2 separate regions of the Homo sapiens genome follow, and region 2 is linked to region 1. The links come from fine-mapping of genetic effects on gene expression. A gene starts in region 1. The other region holds a variant in brackets. All regions are shown on one strand. Distances are between the middles of the regions. Region 1 holds the start of BTBD9 (BTB domain containing 9). Region 2 holds the start of LOC124901315 (a long non-coding RNA gene).

Region 1 (11,209 bases):
TCCCTTTACAAATGTGTTTATAATTTTGCACAGCTACTGTTTTATTTCCTTATATAGTGGAACTCCCTTATAACTTCCTCTCACTAGGACTAACATGTGTGCTATATGCCAAAAGTCTTCAGTATATGAAACATGTAAAACCCAAAGAATATTGGCAAGCAAAGAATATGTCCTTAGATTCAGATTCTCTACATCCATGTTTCTGTGATTATACCTCTTCCTGTTTCTTTCCTGTGGGTTTTGCTCATTTCACCCATCTTATCTGTAAACTTCCCAGGAACAGGGAATATATTATTTGCTTCCCTTTTAAGACTCAATGTGCCTAATACAGGACACAGACTGGAATCCTGGCACATATTATTAAAAATTATTTTGCAAACTGGATTGTTCCTTTTTTTTAAAAAAAAAGGGGGGGGAGAGGGCATCTAACACAAAGTCAAATGCACATAGCTACACACCAGATATATGAAAGAAATTTTCTGTAGTTATTTTGTGTGTGTGTAAAATTAGAAATCATATCCTCCCCATGACTCATCAGAGATAAAAGAGGATAAATGAAATCTGTGTGTGAGGTACATGCCATCATGCACCAGGACAGTATTAAGCAGCTTCAAAGGTTATTGCTATGTATCAGGCATTATAATAGATTCTGGAGAAAACAAAAATAAGAATGAGATAAGCTCTACGAAATTGGAAATCAGACTGGTAGACCTAGAGAGTCTGGAGGCTGTTAAAATTCTTATTCTTCTCTAAACTATCTCCTGGTTCTCCATACACTTCAACCACTTTGTTAGTGCTGGTTCCTTTTCTTTCATCTATCCTCTAACAGCACCATCAGCATCACCTGGGAACTTGTTCAAAAATGCAATTTTTCAAGCCCCAGTCCACACCTACTTAATCAGAAACTATGGGGGTGGGACCCAGAAATCTGTGCTTTACCAAAGCCTCCAGCTATTTCTTTTTTTTTTTCTTTTTTGAGATGGAGTCTCGCTCTGTCACCTAGGCCGGAGTGCAGTGGCCTAATCTCGGCTCACTGCAATGTCCACCTCCTGGGTTCAAGCGATTCTCTTGCCTTAACCTCCTGAGTAGCTGGGATTACAGGTGTGCACCACCCCACCCAGCTAATTTTTATATTTTTAGTAGAGATAGGGTTTCACCATGTTGGCCAGGCTAGTCTCAAACTCCTGACCTCAAGTGATCCACCCACCTCAGCCTCCCAAAGTGCTGGAGTTACAGGCATGAGCCACCACACCTGGCCACCTCCAGGTCTACCCAATGCATTTTCAAATTTTAGAACTACTATGGTTTGCATGTGTCCTCCATGTGTTAGAGGAGACATGATTCCCCAATGCAACAGCAGTGAGTGGTGGGATCTTTAGTGATTAGGCCATGAAGACTCTTTTCTCATGAATGAATTAATGCCAGTAGAGTGGGAATAGGTTGACATGATCAGTTCAGCCCCCTTCCCTCTCTCTCTCACCCATGTGATGCCTTCTGCCATGTTATGACACAGCAAGAAGGCCCTCACCAGATACTGGCACATTGATCTGGGACTTCCTAGCCTCCAGAACTATCAGGAAATAAATTTCTGTTCTTTATAAATTAACCAGACTGTTCTTTATAAATTAAACTTAGATCAGTTCTTGTCTTAGTTTGTTTTGTGCTGCCATTATGAAACATAAAATATGAAATAGCAGCACAAAACAAAGACAAGAACTGATCCAAGTTTAAATACTGATTTAAACGTCCAAAAGTTCCATTCACCATCTTTTCCAGTTCTCACTCTCCATTTTTCTGGCATTGGGGCCTCTCCTACTATCTCTACATCTATAACTACTACTAACAATAACAGCAACAGCTGCCATTTATTATATTAAGCATCTATAAGACAGGCATTGTGTTAATCACTGTGCACATAGTACCTTTGTGTTAATCACTGTGCACATGTATAATCTCCACAATTCTTTAATTCAGATAAGAAGCCTAGGCTTAGAGAAGTTAAATAACTTGCCAAAGGTCAGCCAACCAATAAACAGCATAACAGAGATTTGACCTGCCATCTTCCTAACTCCAAAGTCCACTAAGTTAACTACTATACTAACATGCCTCCTAGAAGGTTGCTACTCCCACAGCCTCAGCGGACATCTATATTACAATTGTCCCTAACCATCTCATAAACTCTGAAGTAGCATTTCCAGTTACTTAGTGGATCTCTCTTTTTAAACTCCCCACAGAAACCTCAGAATTAACACTGCCATTATTTCTTCTCTCCACTTCAAACCTGTTCCTCTTCCTGTGATTTCTAACTTAATGTCATCATAAGCAAACAGTTGCTCAAACTAGACATATTATCTTTGACTTCTCACTCTCCCTTACCTCTAGCTGGTCATAAATGTAGAGATTTTAACATCTAAAAATGTCTCCAAAATCTATCCATTCCCATTGTCCAACATTTCTCACCTACACTCTAGTCTCCCTGCCTCTCTACTCTAATGCAATCTGCACACGAACTGTCAACTTTCTGATTATTCTACCTTCTATGGCTCTCCACTGCCAATGGATGGGAGGAGTCTAGACTTTTTAGGATGAAGTGGAAGACCCCCTCATAATTTGGCTCCAAAAACAGCTTCCTGCCTCATCACTTCCCCCATGCAATAAGAAGTGATTAGGCCCTCATGAATGGATGAATGCCATTATAGCAGGAATGGGTTCATTATCTCAGGAATGGGTTCTTGAGATGAGTTCAGCCCTCTCCCCTCTCTTGCCCACAAGAAACAACTCAAGATATTTCCAAAAGCGCTATTTAATTTTAATATTCAGCAACTTTGCTTATGCTGGCCCCTGGAATGCTCTCTTCCACCTCTACATGTGGCGAAATTTTATTTAACCCTCAGAGCTAAGCTCCATCCCCTTCTTCTCAACATGTTCCCTATCAGTTTTTTCTCCAGCCAAAGCACTCTACTCCCCCAGCACATTATTCATTCCAAAAGTGATTAATTTGTCACAGCACATAATGGTTAGTGGTTTATCTCTTCTGATGAACACTTAGTATGCTGAGCATATACTGTGTCTTAACTTCTTTGTCTTCCCAGCACCCAACGAAGTGTCTCGCCATAGCCAGCACCCAGTAAGTATCTGCTGAGTTGTTAAATAATGCAACATTTGCAGTTGTAACTTTACACATCTTGGTTAGCAATTCAACTTCAGGTTTACATACCACTCAAAAGAATTTTCACATAACAGAAGATGTTATAAATAAAGACCAAGGGTTCAATATTCAGCAGCAGGGTCTTTAATTATTCTGAAATCTCTTTGGTCAGTATTTTTAAGCATCGTTCATCAGAAAGACTCCTTTCCCAACTAACATTTGTATATTTTACAGGATCAGCAGTAAAGACAAACCTCAGAGAGATAATCCCAAGCAAAACTATGTCACTGAGTGTGACTGGATGACTATTGGTACATCATTTCAGTAAATTTCCAATACAATGGCCCAAGTACATCAGGTAGATTTTAGATAATGAGACATGCACCACTGACTACCTAAAATACATGCACATTAGTGAGGCATCGATTCCAATTAGTAATTGAAATCAAAAGTATATTAACAACCTGATATTGGTTCAAGCGTAATATCCTTTACTTTCAAGTAAGGATAACACTTATTCTTGTCAAAGACTGTACTCTGATTAATACAACCTCTATCCCACCTTACAAGAAGGCTGTATCTTGTTAACAGTGGGATGCTGATAAGCCCGCCTTAATCCTTAACACTTTGCCTTCCCAACCTGCTAAGCCATCTCTCTCCAGTATTCCCCTATAAGAGACGTTCCGCTCCAGTTACCAGACATAAAAGTCGTCTTGGTATATCCTCCAACAACCAAATTCACATTATTATTTTCTCAGCTCCTGGTTTATTTCCTAACAAATTTTAACTTCTTTCAGAGACCAAGTCAAATCTTGCCTCTTTCAAAGAGTTCCCTAACTCAGCCTACACATCCTATCTTTTCTGATTTTCTACCACATTTATAGTCCTCAAACAGCACTGGTTACCTGCTACTTAACTTGGTTTTATAATTATTTTATACATCTCCTAGCTAGACTACTGCTCTCAAAGGGAAAAAAAAGACAGGTCTTCTATGTCATTTTTCACTCCATAATCCTCCTCCCACACCTATCATGATACTGGGCAGAGGGAGGCACATGTATTAAGTACTTGATGGACTGAACTCAATGCTTTCTATACATAGATACACCACTTGAGCATAGTGTGCTATATAACAAATATCCATTGCATGCCTACTCTGTGGCAAGCACATTTTTCCTATGTGTTAGACATAGGGCAAGGAGGAAAACACAGATGACTCCTGTCCTAAAAGCTATTACAGTGGAGGGAGGAAGACACTTTGAATTCCGAGTAATCTAATAAGTGTTACAAAGCAAGGTTATTACTGGTTCCAAGAGGTAACATACTTTACAGATTCTCAGTTATGAAACAGAATCATAGAATTTTAGACCTAAATGAGAACCTTGAACTTATTTTCCTCTATCCTCTTACACAAAACATTAGATTTCAGTACAGCCTATCTTTTCACTGGTTCTACAAATTGCCTTAATCAACAGAAAGAAAAGACTGGCTTCTTCCCTGTCTCCAATATTCCTCGCTCCCAAGTATGGTAACCACAACCCCTATACATCTACCCATGATAGAGTCCAGAGCACTGAGAAGACAGCACAGGGCTGAGGATGAGCTACACCTTTACATGCTGGGTTCTCCCATCATCAACACTTTCCGCCCACACAGTGAACAGAATCCGTATTTTCTGCCCAGAAAATAGCAGCCTGTACTGCCTTTAGGAAAAACAAACAAAACATGCTTCCATACTTCCTTGGATCTACTAATGACAAAAGCACAACACGGTTCTGGGAAATATAGCAAGATAACTAAGTCTATGAGGAAGTAAGAAATGAGGATGCCTATCAGCACCTTGGTCTCAAAATCTGTAACAACAATGTACTAAAACGCCAAGGAAACACATGCACATACATGTGAAGTTAGAAACTCTAGGCAACAGGTTGGCTGCCCCGGATCTATACTGACAGGTCGCCCTCCCAAGGTCGTGGGTGTGTCTGATGCCGCACGCAGGCACTGATTCACAACTCTCTCCATAACAACCAGCTCCTACTCAGAGGCTGGCCAGGGCAGGGGAGATGAGGGCCCCAGCAGTCCCAAACTTTCCAAACCCCCACCCCGGGGTCCCGGGTTTCGCCTCCTCAGTCCCAGGCAACGTCGTCTCAGACAGGATACGAGACTGCTAGGGAACCTGGGCTGCCCCTGATTCGAACTCCTCTCTTTGGGAGGCTGGTAGAGCCACCCCGAATCCCCGAAACGTCTACTTCCCACTACACCTTCGTGGACTGCGAACGGGACGGCTACCGCTCTCCCAGAGCACCCGGGCCCAAGAAATGACCCTCGTCAGGCCCCGTCCCAGCTCCTCCCCCGCCCCCGGAAAAAGCGGCGGAGGGGCGGGGGGCGGTGCGCGCGGATACGGCGGGGGCGCGCGTCCCCGCGCCGCAGGTGCGGCCAGGCCCCACCTCCCCTGCAAGGACCCGGCTACTCACCCCAGCGATGCTCCTCTGAGACCAAGCTGCGACACAGACGCCTCTTCCGCCCGCTCCGCACCCCTCTCTGCGCCACCGCCCCCTTGGCCGCTTCCGTGGCCGCCGTCCTCGCCGCCGCCCCGGCTGCTGCGGCGCGCGTCCGCTTTCACGCACTCCGCCGTGGCCGCGCACGCGCCACTGCGCGCTGGCGTCACTTAGCAACCGATCGACAGCGGGCTGCTGGGTCCGGCGATGCAGGCCCAGAAAGTCGCCTAAGGCAGCTTCCGCGGCTTTTTCGCATCGGCCCGACCCTCTGCCCCTCCAGAACAGGGGGCCCCAGGGTGTGGCTGCCCTGCCGGCACCTGGCTCCGGGTAAGTCGAGTCACCACACGTCACTGTATGGCGTCACCGGCGCACGTCACTACGGATGAGAAGGTCCTGGGCGCCTGTGGAGTGACCTCGTCCAGACCGCCGCAGACCCGATCGGCAAGTTCTTGGAGGTGCAGGAAGGTTCTCCAAGGAGTAGGACCAGAAAGGGATGAGAGCGCGAGCGCGGTTAATGTCGAGGCTGCTAAGTGATGCTCGTTAATTTCGCAGCAGGGTGTGACTGGCCCAGCCTTGACTCTCAGTTTCCTCTCTCAGTAAATGGGCATAATAATACCGGTCCAGCCTACGCTGGAGAATTGTGAGGTGAAAATGAAATAAGGTATGCAAAGGTACTTTGTAAGTATAAAGCCCATTTGACTTGGTGGCTCAAGCCTGTAATCCCAGCACTTTGGGAGGCCGAGGTGGGCGGATCGCTTGAGCTCAGGAGTTCGACACCAGCCTGGGTAACATAGTGAAACCCCGTCTCTACAAAAAAGACAAAAACTAAATGGGCATGTTGGCGCGCGCCTGTAGTCACAAATGCTCGGGGGGCTGAGGTGGGAGGATCGCTTGAACCTGGGGAGTTCAAGATTGCAGTGAACCGTGATCGCGCCGCTGCACTCCAGCCTCTGCAGTGAGAGCAAGACACTGTCTCAAAAAAATGTATTTATCTATCTACATAGATAAGAGTCCTAGAAATCCGGGTGCAGGTCTGACTGTAGCTGGTGTAGGAAAGTCAGTTATCCCCGACGCTGGAGCAAGCTAGGGGACCGCCCTTGCAGTTGTTGGAGGAGACAAATTGGGAAGGACTTAATTCCGGGCAAAGGAAGCTTCATGAGTAAAAGTAGAAAGTGAAAATGGTCAGGAAAAGCAAGGCTTGGGGCAGGGAGACCCATTTTTAGGCCATTGCAGTACTCCAGACAAGTGATAAGAACATTAAACAAGGCATTGGCAGTGGGAATAGAGGAGGGGATAGATGTTAGCGCCATTAAGGTGGTAGAATTCACAGCACTGAGTGCGGATAAATGAGTAGGCCAGGTTTCTAGCATGAGTGCTGAGGTAGACAGTGGTAACATTTAGCAAGATGGCAAGCTACATGAGTCTTGATTATCCACAAGTGTCTAAGTTACTATTATAGATAGTGATGGTGACATTTCTTAGGAGGATGACCAGATATGTGGAGTATGATGATGAGTTCAAATATGGATATGTTTGTTAGGGAAACATTTACTCTCCATTCACAATGTCTTTCTTCCATATGGAATGATATCCATTAGTGTAATACTCTCCTGGTTTCTCTTATACCTGTCTGCAACTCACTCTTGCCTAGAGGAGTGACTTCCTGATTGGTGAACTTAAATGGGAGAAACTGGACATGTGGCATCTATCCCATTCTTTTTCTCTTAAAAGATAACTATCTTCAGGGAACTGTCCTGGTGTTCTTTTCCGTTTCTTCTGGAGCAGGGCCTGTGGGTAGGGACAAGGGTGCCTAGTCCAGGGCTACAAAGAGAGTATATGTATTTAATTCCAGAGTTTGGCATTAGGAAGCTGTCTGTCCACAGATAATATTTAATACCAGCTTTGTCAGCTGTGTTACACAGAATAATGATCCCCCCCAACCAAAAAAAAAAGGATGACCACACCCTAATACTCAGAACCCATGAATATGTTATATTATGTGGCAAAAGGGACTTTGCAGATATGATTAAATGATGTATCTAGGGAGATTATCCTGGATTGTCTGACTGGGCTGGAGGCAGGAGGGTCAGAGTCAGAGAAGGAGATGTGATGATGGAAGCAGAGGTCAGACAGAGATTTGAAGATGCTATACTGTTGGCTTTGAAGATGGACCCAAGAAACGCAAGCAAATTGTAGATGCGGGAGAAGGCAAGGAAATGGATTCTTCTCTAGCACCCTAAGAACACAGCCCTGCCAACACCTTGATTTTAGGACTTCTGACTTCTAGAACTGCGAGATAAGAAACTTGTATGTTTTAAGGTACCAAGTTTGTGCTAACTTGTTACAACAGCAATAGGAAACTGATACAGTCAGTAATAAAGATAATAGTTGGTTTCCTGCAGCTTTCTCCATTACCTGGAAAAGAAGGGTACAATTCAGTAGGTCCCCTCAGAGACTATAGCAATATGACTGTGACCTGATGGAACCTCCACATCTAGAGAAAAATGTCCAATAAACACTCAAACTGTACAGGTCTATGAATGAGGAAAGAGGTTGAGTTAAAATAGATTTGGAAGAAATAAATTAATAATTGGTAATTTAAGCCCGAGGCATGGATGAGATCAATCAGGGAGAAAATACAGAAGACATAATAAGGAGAGGCAAGGATAGGGCCCCTGGAGAGCACTAACTTTAAAAGGAGGTGCAGATGATCAGAAGCCCAAAAAGAAGTCTGAGGAAGAATGGCCAGAGAGAGAAAAGGAGAACTAGGTGAGCCTAATGCCTCTGAAGCCAAGCAAGCAAGATGGAGAGGGGTCAACAGAGTCAGAGACCACAAAAAGGCCAAGTATATCAAGAACTGGAAAGCATTCACTGGATTTAGCAACAGAAAAGTGATTGGTAACCAACAATAGCAAACTTCAGTGGGATAGTGGAGATAGATACCAAATCACTGAGATCTGAAAGGCAGATCAATATAGTGGATTGGCCTCTAGACTAGTTTGATGGGAGTTTTGAGATTCTAGTCTTGATTCTGGCCATTAACTAGCTAGATAACTTTGAACAAATCCCTCAACTACTCCAGGCTTTGGTTTTCGCATCTGGCAAAGGATGAGATCAAGCTGAGTCTATGATTTTCTCATTAATTCCTAGATAATCCCCCCAGTTTTATTTTTTTATTTTTTGTCATATCTGATTCAATACTTTTATTTATTTTTATTTTTTATTTTTGAGACAGCATCTTGCTCTGTTGCCCAGTGTGGAGTGCAGTGGTACAATCTTGGCTCACTGCAGCCTCAACCCCCGGGCTCAATCACCCCAATTTCATATCAGACTCACTTGCTTATAACAGCACACTTCAAATCCTTCTCAGACCATTTTCCAACCACTAAGAATCAGTATATTTCATGCCAGCTTCTGTCCTAGATACTATGGCTATAACACAGTTTTCAAGGAACTCACAATTTGGAGAGAGAGAGAGAAATACTAAGTATGTAACTAGCTGTCATAGTTCTTTAAAAAAAAAAAAAGAAAAAAAAGTAAGGCCAGGCGCGGTGGCTTATGCCTGTAATCCTAGCACTTTGGGAGGCCGAGGCGGGTAGATCACCTGAGGTCAAGAGTTTGAGATCAGCCTGACCAATATGATGAAAACCCGTCTCTACTGAAAATACAAAAATTAGCCGGGCATGGTGGCATATGCCATCATCCCAGCTACTCAGGAGGCTGAGACAGGAGAATCACTTGAATCCGGGAGGCAGAGGTTGTGTAGAGCCAAGATCTCGCCATTGGACTCCAGCCTGGGCAACAAGAGCAAAACTCTGTCTCAAAAAAAAAATTAAAATAAGTAAATAAATAAAAATAAAAAATAATAAGATAGACCTGATTGTGGTGGCTCATGCCCCGTAATCCCAGTGCTTTGGAAGGCCAAAATGGGAAGATCACCTGAGGCCAGGAGTTTGAGACCAGCCTGGGCAATATAGCCAGACACCCATCTCTACAAAAATTTTCTAAAAATTAGCCAGGTGTGGTGGTGCGCACCTGCAGTTCTAACTACTTGGGAGGCTGAGGCAAGAGGATTGGGTGAGCCCAGGAGTTTGAGGTTACAGTGAGCTATTACCAGATTACAGTGAGCTATGACTGTGCCAGTGCACTTCAGCCTGGGCAACAGAGCAAGACCCTAAAAGCTAGATATAAATATATTGTAAGTATAATACAATATACTATAACAGAATCTGTATGAAGTGAAATGAGGGATATATAAAGTGATACAGATAAGGGCGCAGTTAGCTCTATCTAATGGAAGTCAAGAGTGTTGTACTTACCTACACTGTTAAGTAAACACAGTATGCCTCAAAAATGGACACAAATATATTAAGGCATTTCCATGGAGGTAAAAAAAGAACAGGAGAATTGTGCTAAACCAGCGTTGTCACCTAACATTCCTTCTAGGTAGTTTTGTTGTGATCTAAATGAATATTTATATATAACTGTTTCTAAACTAAAATTGGTTAGTTGTTAAAATGGACACAAATAAAAGTTAAATGCAAGAATAATTTATATTTTTCCAGTAGATTCAAGAGGAAATATTTTTTGTCACTAATGCCATGCTTTAATACATTTGCTTGTCTAATCCTCATGTATTATCTTACTTAATTTTGTAAACATTAGCTTATTGTATAGATCACTGACAAAGTATCTGTTTTAGCAGATAGGGACAAAGTTTAAATAATTTGGCCAAGGTCATAGTAGACCAAGATTTGGACCCAGCACAAGCATCCTCTTTCCAGGAAACCTTCCCTCAGGCCCTTAGTTGGTTTAAGTGCCCTCTCTCTGTACTATTAGCATATGCACACACATTCATTTTAGCGTTGACTTTAATAATAAGGATGTTTACCATGTACCAGATACATAGTACTTGCACCTATGTTATCTATGTTTAAGTGTTTTGTAGGCATTAGTTCATTTAAGCCTCATAACTGCCCTTTGAAGTAGGTGATATTATTCACAATATTTTATAAAACAGGAAGCCAAGGCATAGAAAGTTAAGTAATTACTCAAGGTACAATTAATAAGTGATAAAGCTAGGATTCGAATCCATGCTTTTAACCCCCCAGGCTTCATACTATGTACCCTTTCCCTTATACTGAGGAATTCTAGAAGGCATAGTTGACAGGTTGTTGTGTGTGATATCACTCTGTGTTCCTCATATGAACACAAGAGAATTTTCTCTCTGAGCCACAAGTCATGAAATATTTGGCTACCCTTGAGTAACTGATGTGTTTTCTCTTTATAGGCAATGTGAATTATATAACTGCCTGTTTTTCACTTTTCACTTTGCCAAGAAGCTCTGAGTAAATTTGTTGGCTCAGCGTTTGTAAGTGGGTGAATTGGCCTGCATATCTGTATTCTGTTGCTTTGAAATTTTTAAAAATAAATAGTTGAGAGAAAAATAATGTAAATTTTCTTTATTTTCCAAATTGTTGACAATGTACAATGATAATTTTTATAATTAGAAAAATAAACTTTGTTCTTAAAAGAACGTTTGAAGCTTCAAATGATTTCTCAT
Region 2 (11,048 bases), 460 kb before region 1:
TGGGAAAGGAGGTGAACCCGTGTCCTTTTGGAGTCCAGGGCAGGCTCCCAGCAAAGCGAGGGGGAGGCGAGCTGGCAGCGCGGCTGTGAGGGAATGAGACTTTGCCATCAGTCCTCACCAATGACATCTACTGTTAGTGCCACCCCATCGTCCCCATACTTCTCTTTATCTGATGATAAGGGGCATCTTTAAAGTGCTAGAAGACAGGAGGGACAGAGATCTGGAAGGGCATGCCCCGAAGGAAAGAACCGCCACAGGCCAGGGAGCTGCAGATGTGGGTCTAGGGCCGAGGCTTTGCAGCGTATTCCTTTTCAGATGCGAGGCCGAGCTGCCAAGCTGCTATCTCGTTCCCGGAGCACAGGAGGGCTCTGCGTGCTCTGTGGGCAGGGGACTGGAGGGTTGCAGATGCAGGGCCGGGCAGCTCCTCCAGCACCCCCACCAGCCCACCCTCTCTTCCCAAGGTCAGCAGCATGCTGCTTCAGGCCAAGGGCCTCTGGGCAGGTGATGCCCATGTTTAAAAAGAAGCATGTGAATGGCTCATTTCAAAATGTTTGAACTCTGCCCTTGATATGACTGTCTGGCTCCTTTGTCCCCATCTGGGTAGAAAACACACTGGGGAAGGAAGTGCTGTGTGTGCAGGAGCTCTCTGGCTAATTGGCAACCCGGGGCTGGGGGCTGACAGAGTCAGCAACCATGCTGGAGGGCCCCCCACTGTGAGCGGGCGCCCACCGTTCCTTACAGGAGCCTCCTCCCATTATGAAATGCCTGGCATCCCAGGAGTGTTCCACTCTCCCACACAACAGGGAAGTGGCAGAGATCAGAGCTGAGGGGATAGGAAGCAGCTCAGCCCTGCAGCTGGAGCTACCGGGGAGGATGGAGAGCTGCAGACCCTGGCTTCTCCTCAGGAACGTGTCCACCCTGCCCCGGTAGCCCTCTGATGTCTGCCATCCTGTGTTCACACGGAAAGACAGTCTTCCAATTTAATCACGCAGTTTGATGCTACCCTACTATTTCCATATGGACAAATCACTCAAAATCAAGTTAAACTAGGAGGAAGCGGCTGACCCGTTGGCTCTTTCTAGAGCGCAGCTGATATGTCTTTGACACACCTGAAAGGAAACTCCCACGCCCTCACCCTCCTTTGATCAGGGTTGCAGGTTGGCGCCGAAGACCCAAGGACTGCAGTGCTGCTCACGTGCCATGCCGTCCTGGGGAGACTCCCAGGCTGATGCTGATGGCGACAGAGGCCGGAGCTCTGGGGACAGCGGAGGGGCAGGCAATGTTGTGCGCAGTTACCCAGGGCAGGCAGCACTGGAATGGAAATCACTAAGTAGGAGACGGAGCCACATCAAGCCACCATCGTCAAATGAGGTCCTTTTGATGAGGATTAGGAGAAAAGCTTCTTGGAACTGCTATTTTTCAGTCCCCAGTTGAGTACTGTGGTGTGGGGGAAGCACGGAGTCCCAGTTCTGCGTTCCTGACGCTGATGGGCAGGTGGCTGCCTCTCCAATGCTTCGATAAACACAACTGGAGGGGCAGCTAAGCCACGGCAGTCCCCGGCAGGTTTGGCCACGCCAGAACTCGGTATATGTTTATCTACATGGACTTCGGAACAGTGAATTAGCAGCGGGCATAGTAACTATTTCCTTGTCAGCCTCCCAAGCTTAAAGGCTGGATCCATGTCAGGAATGACAGGTGAGTAACTCAGCCACACGAGTGACTATTAACTCCAGTGTCCACAGGTTGATTTGCTTGTGTGCATTTGTGGCACTTCCTCTGTGGCCCAAGTGCCAGGATGAGCTGCATCCGTGTCTCATTTAGGAGACATGCACGATGGGTCTCTGTCCCCGCAAGCTGAACCGTTCAAAACCAAGGAAGGAAAATTATAGCATCAAAAGGGATTAAAACTAGTGATTTGCTGTTTGAGCATTTCAAATAGATCCGGAACACCTATGATTCACTGAGTGGAGAATAACTAAAACAAATAAAAAATCATTTAGTTGCCAGGGCAATGTATTCCAGCAGAATGAACACTCTATGGAGGCCCATTCCTAAAGGGTGCCTCCAGGTAGCAAAGGCCCAATGGCTTTCTCCTCCGCCTGAGTGTTTGCGTGCCATTTTTGTATTCCAACACAGGCCTGTCTATGACTTCCTCCTGTTCCCTGCGCCTGGGCTAGATTAGAGAGGTAGGGTGTTAATGGTGGACTTGATGAAGATTGAAGACCCATTTTCTCCCCCTTGAGACCTGCCTGATTTGGATAAATTGAGAAGAACAAAGCAGCCCCTTTCTGTCCTTGGGAGAAAACCTGTTCGGTGTCTGCTTTTGCAGCTAGGTCGGCTCCTCCCTGGAAAGGGGCAGAGGTGGGGGCAGTCAACAGAGACCCCTGCTCAGGGAGGAGACCGTTTCCTGCCGTTGCCCGAGCCCACCAAGTCACACCAGGCCCGCTGCCTCCTTTATTGGTGCTGCCGGTTGGGGGAGCGTGAGTTGGAGCCTGGGCTGGAGGGTAGTGAGCTGCCACTAGGCGCCCGCAGCGCATGGGAGTCGAGCTGCTGACCGGCCAGGCTGGTGTCCCCTGTCCCCGATTCCTCACTATTTTCCTCCTTCTGGCTGCTCTGCTGCTCTGGACACTCAAAGTGGACACAGTGGAACACCTGGGAGAGAAAAGGAAAAGACCCCATGAGTGAAGGGTCAGCATGCGGCCCTGGAGTTGCCGCAAGTTGGGATACTGCCCTGCCCAGCTTTGGGGGCCACCACGAGGGAGTTAGAGGAGGTCCTTCCCACTGCCCACGCCTGCCCCGGCGCAGACACCTGATGGCAACTAGCATGCTGTAAACACATTTTGATCAGTCAAGAGGAAAGGAAATGAGCCAGTGGCCCAAAAGTTAGAGACACCATGACACGGATTCCCACAAAATCTTCACACTGGATTACTCCGTTTTTGCCAACCTTTGTCTAATGGGCTCTTTTTTCTTTTTTAATTAATTTTTGTATTTGGCAGTTGGGTTAAAAGTCAACAGGAGTTGACTGGTGGTGGTGGTGGTGGTGGTTCGATTCTGTGAGGTTGTGGAAAGCAGGTCCACAGATAACGTCCACCATCTGTGTGGCATCTGCGTGGGTTGTCTCTGGGTATTCTGGTTTTCTCCCGCGTCCCAAAGCTGTGCACTTGAGGTTCATTGGTGTGTCTGCAGGGTCCCAGTCTGAGTGCATGTGAATGTGTGTGAGCGTGCCCTGCAATGGCATGGTGTCCTGTCCTGAGCTGGTTCCTGATGCATAGTTCTCCTGGCCCTGCAATGGTTGAGCACAGACCCTGCTAAGCAGCCGTGCTGGGGAGTGGACTTCAACCTCATGTGGCTCCAGCCAGCCTGGAACAAACGCCCCCAATGTGTAGAAGCCAGCCACCTGGCCGACAGTCACCCTCTAGGAGCTAAGAAGAGTTTGCATACCTGACAGCAGGTCAGCCTGGAAGCACCATGAACTCTGTGCCAACACCGTGCCAGCACTGTGCAGACAGGGCACAGCACCGAGCTCAGCGCCCCGCAAGCAAGGGTAAGCCATGGCCCTGACCTGGAGAGTAGACAACGTGCTTCGGGGGGTCCTGACATGCATGTGTGAGCTGTGGGGTGCAGGAGAGAAGGGCGGGGTGGGGGCTGTCGTTGCCACTGCACGAGCATGTGTGCACATACATACACACGGCCTTCTACCGTAGAATCAAGTTCACAGAGACAAATGTAGTATCAACTGCAGAATTATATTGAAAATATAAATTCCACGCTTACCTCCCTGCATCACTGTTTTTTCCATATTCCCACTTCAATTCATTTATTGACCACTGTTTTAAATTTCACATTTTCTCATATGAAGACTGAGACCGTGTCTTCCTGGTGTGTCCACTCTGTTTTGGGAGCTGCCATTTTCTCTTAGAGGGAGCTGATTTCTCTCCTTATAGGGCAGGGGCTCAGGCACGGTCCTCGCCTCCTGCAGACCCCTCACTGCCTCACGGCTGAAGCTGTCCCCACTTAGCCTATGTCTCCCTCCTTTTCCTTTCTTTCCTTCCTTCCTTTTTTATAAAATCTCCTTCTGTGGGTCCATCTGCAGGGCTTACCAGTCAACAACTGGAGGGGCTAGGTCCTAGGGGAAGGCCTTATGTGGAGATCTGAACACTATTTGGGCCATCAGCTCTGCCCTGGGCTAGGCCAGGGGAATCTGAGAATCATCCTCTAGGTGACAACCATTAATCCACTCCTTCATCAGCTTCACAATCTTGCAGCTCTTCAGTAACAACACCGCCCTGGGCATGTCGGCCACTCATGGGTCACTTGCCTTATAAGTGTTCCTTCTTCCACACCCAGGGATAGGTGAGGTCAGGCTCTGCGGGGCCAGGACACGCCTTGAGAGTGCAGTCCCGGTCCTCAACACCCCCCCCACTAAAGCTTCTCATAACCCAGCAAATACGCCTTCTCTTTTGCAGTATGACCCAGAGCCATATTCTGTTCCCACGCCCACACGCAGGACTTTTCAGGACAGGCTGTGTTTTACTGCTCCTTCCCCCTGCTGACACAGGAGCTCTTTATCCGGCCCCACCATGTTCTTTAATTGGTTATTTGTGTAATCCCTGCTCTCCCTGCTCGGTCAATATCTCCGGAGGCCGCTCCCCAGAGCCTCAGGCTGACACTAATCCTGGAATTGACTTACGTTTGTCCTACTCCTTATTACCTTTTCTCAAGCTCACTCCTCTGGTATTGAATGGTTTTTCTCTCCTTTTGCTCTTGCAACGTTCTCTACAGTCCTGTTAATTTCCAGGCCAGCTCTTCCCCCACCGGCCCCGCAAGCCTTCAGGGTGCCTCCCGCTCCGTGGCCCACCCC[G/A]CTGCCTGCCTCCTTCTACTGATCTGTCAGCTCCGATCTGACTCAAGGACCAAGGCTTAGTCGTCCTTCTACCTGCTCGGGTTCTTGCACAAGAATAAACAAATCGATAAAAACCCTGGATTGAGAGATAAAGTTAAAAAAGACCTCAGAGTGGCCTGGTGCTGCGGCTTGCTCTTCACAGCCGGCCTCTCACTGGAGGAGGGATCAGGGCGGGTCTCTGCTCCGCACTGCGCTGGTAAGAGCCTGGGAAGAGATGCTGTCTGTGGTGAGCACGTGATAGACATTCCACGACCCGACCTGTCGGTGCCCTGGTTCTCATTGTTTCTTCTCATTTCCAGCTGCATTTATCTCTTGTCTAACTTGGGCAGTGTTAAGGGCACAACTGTGTTTAGCCCATTAGCCAATTTGTTTTCAGATAATAATGCAAATGGCTGTTACTCCCAACACACCTAACAAGACTGACAGCCAATCTCAACTGCTTCTGTGTTTTCCTATGGATATTTCTTCTAAAGAACTCCTAACTATCTCTCTCCCTGATGCCACAGAGCTCACGGCAGGCCCTGCCATCAAGTTAGGGGACCCTGGAAGCCCCTGGAAGCCCTAGGCCGTAACTGCCTGACTGAGCTCCCTGTGGCTCTGCAAGGAACTGGGGCCATCTCAGAGCTGCGTCCCAGTCTGTGGCCCCAGAATCCCAACTAAATGAAGTGCAGTCTCCCTGAGCATCTCCACCAAGCCACGCAGGTGCTGCCAGATTCAAAGGCAATACACAGGCAGGAGTGAGTTACCTGTATTAAATCACAAACTGTGTGGCGAAGATTCTAAGTGGAAAAGAGTGTTTTTACAAATGGATAGGCGGGTGAAGACACAGAACCTGCCATGGGTGGGGGTGGGCAAGCTACAGGTGACAGGTGGGGAGGGAACAGCCTCTGCACACCAACAGAGACAGGATGAACATCACATATGCAGCAGACACGGCCAGAGGATGACGCTGCACACGTGAGCAGGGTCAGGAGGTACACACGTACCACAAGCATGAAGCACCTCCTACGTGCCTGACTGGGCGAGGTCCCAGCTGCCCTCAGAGGGTGTACGGTCCAGTGAGGCCAGCAGACACATAAGCCAGGGAGAAGGAGCCCCAGGGCATAGAGGAGTGGGACCCAGCCAGGCAGGCGGTCAGGGAAGGCTTCCTGGGGGAGGAGACATCTGAGGTGAGTCTGGAAGGAAGAGGCAGCCAAGCTAGAGAGGATGGAGGAGGGGGGGACTTGGTGTGGAAGAAAAACAGGAAGAACTACACAGGTTCTCAAGCCAAAGGGTGGCAACAGAGCAAGGAGGGCCTGGGAGCAGCAGGGTGTGGGGGGGAGGGGTGGGGCAGAGGCCACACCCAATGGGACAGGGCGAGGGCCTGGCCTTAAGCTGGGCAGGGATCCTGATACTCTTGGACAAAGGAGGCTATTTATTTATTTATTTATTTATTTATGAGACAGAGTCTCGCTCTGTCGCCAGGCTGGGGTGCAGGGGGGCTATCTCAGCTCACTGCAACCTCCGCCTCCCAGGTTCAAGCGATTCTCCTGCCTCAGCCTCCTAAGTAGCTGAGACTACAGGCACGTGCCACCACACCCAGCTAATTTTTGTGTTTTTAGTAGAGATGGGGTTTCACCATGTTGGCCAGGATGGTCTTGATCTCTTGACCTCATGATCCGCCCACCTCAGCCTCCCAAAGAGCTGGGATTACAGGCGTGAGCTACCATGCCCAGCCTACGAGACTCTTTAAAAACTAATATTTCTTAAACTAAAAAAGTTATTTAAAAAGGAATATACATTTGTGGTGACAAATTCAAATAACAAGTATTTTAAAAATCTAGATGACAACAAACCTTTAAACCTTGGAATCCCCTGATTTAGCAATTTGGAATCAATAGGCAGGAGTCATTTTCAAATCAAGAAAGATCAGAATTTGGTAACAGACTGGATGAGACTGATAAAGGAGAGCGCCCACAATGACTCTCAGGGTTCCCTGGAAGGGACGGGGGCGGGCATACTGCGGTGCTACAGAAGGTGGCAGCAGCAGGTCCCAGGGCTCCAGTTACAGCAGCTCAGACCTGCACTCATGCCAAGGACTCTCACAGACCCTTTCCCTGCAATGATTTCACTGAGTGCAGACTCCAGCAGGTGCGCCCACAGCGCAGCTCCTGCCCTCAGGACCTCTCAGGCAGTTGGGGGCAGAGGCACCTCTGTGCAGGGGCCTGTGTTCACTCTTCTGCAAATGGCGAGTGGCAGGCTGGGAATGAACCTCAGGGCTGTGCCTTCCTTAAGCCTGGACTGTTCCACTGTATCAACATACCTGCCTCACACAAACAATTCTACCAGCACGGGATCAGTAATATTTCATACATCAGAGGTGTGTGAGAAACTAATTTTGCCTGGAAGAGGGGTCAGGGCAGGCTACAGAGAGGAAGGTGTGCACAGGTGAGGCCTTGAGGGGTTGGGAGGCAGGGAGGGGAGCTGCTTTCCAGGCAAAGGGAACGAGGAGAAGATTTCCACATAAAGATCTGGGCCTTGGCACCTCACTCCTGGCAGCCTGTCTGTAATTCACTCTGGTCACCCCTCTGTGGAGCAGTGTGCCTGCCTCAGTCATCTCTGTTGATGATTTAAGCCTAGCAGCCTTCAGCCAAATGTGGCAACTGTGTAAGCCAATACCCAGCTAGCTCCTGGACCACTCGGATGCCCATCAACATGTACGAGGCTGGGGTTACTTCTCCTGGGATCCCAGAAATCCTCAGATTTGCACGCAATGCAAATGGGCATTCGGGGGGGCCTGTGGGTGGTCCCGATTCTGTTCTTGGGAGCGGGAGTGAAAAGCAAGCCTGTCGTGGGGAAACTGGCACCTTCACTGGTGGCCACGCTGCTGGGGCTGGGCGTGAAGCTGCCTCCGGCCCTTGGAGAGGAGTGTGAGGGAAGGGAGGCGGCAGTGCTTTTTATACACAGGAGCTGGAGGAGGGTGATGGCAGCTTGGAGGAAGTCATCACTGCCATGGTAGGGGGGAAATCTGGAAATATTGGGCATGTGGCCCTCCCCTTCCCACCGTAACCCCAAGCTCCTCAGCCCACTTCTTTCCACCAGGCACCTTTGGGCTTCCCTCTAGGTGGAACAGCCAAGTCCTGAGTCTCTTTGCTCAGAAGCTCAAGTGATTCAATTTCTTTTCTCCAAACTTTCCCAAGACTGCAATACCTCTTGGAAAGGACGTGACCAAATGTGGCTGAGACACACTGGGCAGAGCCGCACTACTCATTTATGCAAAACCATTACTCTGGCCGCCGCATCAGTCTCCCTTCCCCTTTTCAGCAATCATGTATCCCATTAGCCTGTTTGATTGCCGCTGCTCACAAAGGGGCGCCTTCGCTGAACCGTCTTCAATGGCCTCTGGATCTCTCCCCTGAGAGAAGCCGGCTAATTTGGAATGTGGTCGTGTGTATGAATCCGACACAGCCTCAGTCACAATCGGGTGTCCTTTTCTGTAGCTGCTGTTTATGATCACTTTGCCTTGCCTCTCTGGGAGCCATAATTCACCACATACTGGAGATAGGCTGGGTGTTCTTTTCCCCGTGAATCCTGGACAGGATGTACACAAATGTGCTAGCCCCTTCTTGGTGACCAGGCTAATTCCTCAGTGGCTTGGTGGCTGCTGCCTCTCATTAGAGGGATTCCCTAAGCACTATTTGCTTGACAAATTTTCAAGGTTTTTAAAAGCAGAAGCCTTTGCTAATTTTCCCAAGTTGGCCTAAGAGTCCACTGTGAACTGCAGCAGAAATTGGGGAAATTTAATAAATGTTGATCAATGACTCTGCCTTGCTTTCCTGGTTCCTCCTGAATAATTTCCACAGACTGCTTTCATGCCAACCAATACAAATAGGATTTCTGATCCAAGTTTTCAACTTACAAATACAAGTTGACAAATCTTTATAAAATAGATATCTACCTCTTGATGTCTGTCCATAAGTCAGATGCAAAGCCATGACTTCTAACTTACACTCCCCTAAAGATCCCCTATTTCCCTTTCACAGTGGCTGATGTGGTGGCATCACACACCCACCCAGCGTTCAGTGACATAACAGATCCTGACGATGGTCACCATTAACATCTCTCTTATGCTCGCCTCAGAGCAGAAGGTAACAGTCCATCTACAGACTGCAGAGATGTTTTGTTTTTGTTCTTTAAAAATGAAGACGAGTGCCTCCAACAAAATATCCCTTTTGATAAACCTTGGTTTTTTATGTGCATCTGAACAGCCCAACACATTGTTTTCAGTTAGGGGCCGGGCATGGTGGCTCACACCTTATAATCACAGCACTTTGGGAGGCTGAGAGAGGCGGATCACTTGAGGTCAAGAGTTCGAGACCAGCCCGGCCGACGTGTCAAAACCTGGTCTCTACTAAAAATACAAAAATTAGCCAGGTGTGGTGGCAGATGCCTGTAATCCCAGCTGCTCGGGAGGCTAAGACAGGAGAATTGCTTGAACGTGGGAGGCGGAAGTTGCAGTGAGCCGAGATCGCGCCACTGCACTCCAGCCGGGAGACAGAGCGAGACTCTGTCTCAAAGACAAACAAACAAACAAACACAACAAAAAACAAAACTAGGAATTACTTCATAGGGAGACATTTCCAAATTGCGAGCAACAAATTTTCAGTATTGCTTAGGGTGATAGGATACCCAAATATTTTTGCACTAAGTATGGAGGTAAGTTTCTGGGTGACAATGCTTATGTACGGCAACAGCTTTTAAAAAAACTTTACAATATCATTTTCTCATATTCACATAGGCCAGGATATCCACAGATAATTGGAACTCTGATGCTTGGAAGGTTCTGGAAGAAGAGGCTTTCCAATCCCTATCACCCCAGGCAGCCCTGGAATTCCTGCCCTGTTTTTTATGTGTGTACACTCCAGAGTTCCAGGGAGAGAGTTACTTTCTTGTCTTAATGGATTCGGCTATAGAGTGGTAGAGGTATCTTTTAGTTATTTTTTTGAAAAACTAAGAAACAAAAAAAGGGAAGTGTTCTTGTTCGCAGGCTTCTGGGATGCCTGAATCTCCCCACCTGATAGATGTGGCCTCACCAGGGCCCCCTTCCCACACCAGACAGGCACCAAGAGAGCCTAGCCATGGCCCTGCTCTCCCCACAGGGCTGGCCCATGTGTCTCCAGCTGCCTGGGCGGTTCTTCACTTTGTGTGACCAGGCTCCGCATGTACCTTCTGTCTCAAAGGGCTCCAGCTGCGTCGAGGCTTCCAGCATCACCCCTCACTGCTGGCACAGCAATGGGACACATCTGAGGGGACCCTCACAAGCTGCTGTCTCCATGCGTCTCACTGCTGGGAGGCTCCTGGGTACTCATCTGCCCAGGTCTGGGGTCACTTTCTCCCAGGCCAGTTGAGGATGGAGAATTATTGTTGCTCCAATATGACAGGTCTAAGGATTGTGCAGTGTCTGAAACAACCATATGTGCTCAATGTTGTCCTGCTTTTCCTCTCTTTTTTTCCAATAAAATCTTTCATAACAAACATTTAAATATAAAGAAGCCCACAAAAGGTCTTCTTTTTTTTTTTTTTCTGAGACAGAGTCTTGCTCTGTCGCCCAGGCTGGAGTGCAGTGGCACGATCTCGGCTCACTGCAAGCTCCGCCTCCCGGGTTCATGCCATTCTCCTGCCTCAGCCTCCTGAGTAGCTGGGACTACAGGCGCCCGCCACCACACCTGGCTAATTTTTTAATTCTTTTAGTAGAGATGGGGTTTCACCGTGTTAGCCAGGATGGTCTCGATCTGACCTCGTGATCTGCCCGCCTCGGCCTCCCAAAGTGCTGGGATTACAGGTGTGAGCCACCGCGCCCGGCCTAAAAGGTCTTCTTTTATAATTATGAAACAAACTAAATATTTTTCTGCCTTTTTTCCTGTCTCACTGGGAAGGAAGCTTTAAGATCTAGTTCACTCTCCTTATTTCAAAGGCAAGTGTCCTGAGAGGCAGGGAGGTAAAATGACACTGGGGCCACACAGCTGGCTGGAGGTGAAGCTGGCACCAGTGCCGAGGCCCCCTCCCTTCCTTCCACTCACTGCTCGCTCCCCTCAGTGCATCCTCTGCCTCCCTGCCTGCCCAGTGCTGGTTCATGGAACCAGCTTCTAGAGCCTCCACACCCCTT

Evidence for each region.
Region 2: its variant is fine-mapped to the expression of BTBD9 in stomach (GTEx, PIP 0.98).

Annotation. Positions count from the first base shown.
Region 1 is chr6:38,634,178-38,645,386 of GRCh38, forward strand. It overlaps BTBD9 (BTB domain containing 9), which reads right to left and starts at 5,752. Exons shown (of 11, transcript NM_001099272.2): 1 at 5,623-5,752. LOC105375044 (a long non-coding RNA gene) reads left to right here and starts at 6,218. Exons shown (of 3, transcript XR_926767.4): 1 at 6,218-6,307. RefSeq lists a silencer at 5,415-5,614 and enhancers at 5,714-6,214, 6,015-6,094.
Region 2 is chr6:38,172,531-38,183,578 of GRCh38, forward strand. BTBD9 (BTB domain containing 9) reads right to left here. Exons shown (of 11, transcript NM_001099272.2): 11 at 1-2,652. The coding sequence ends at 2,455. LOC124901315 (a long non-coding RNA gene) reads left to right here and starts at 2,648. Exons shown (of 2, transcript XR_007059571.1): 1 at 2,648-3,547; 2 at 4,786-11,048. The variant G/A (reference allele first, on the strand shown) is at 4,865.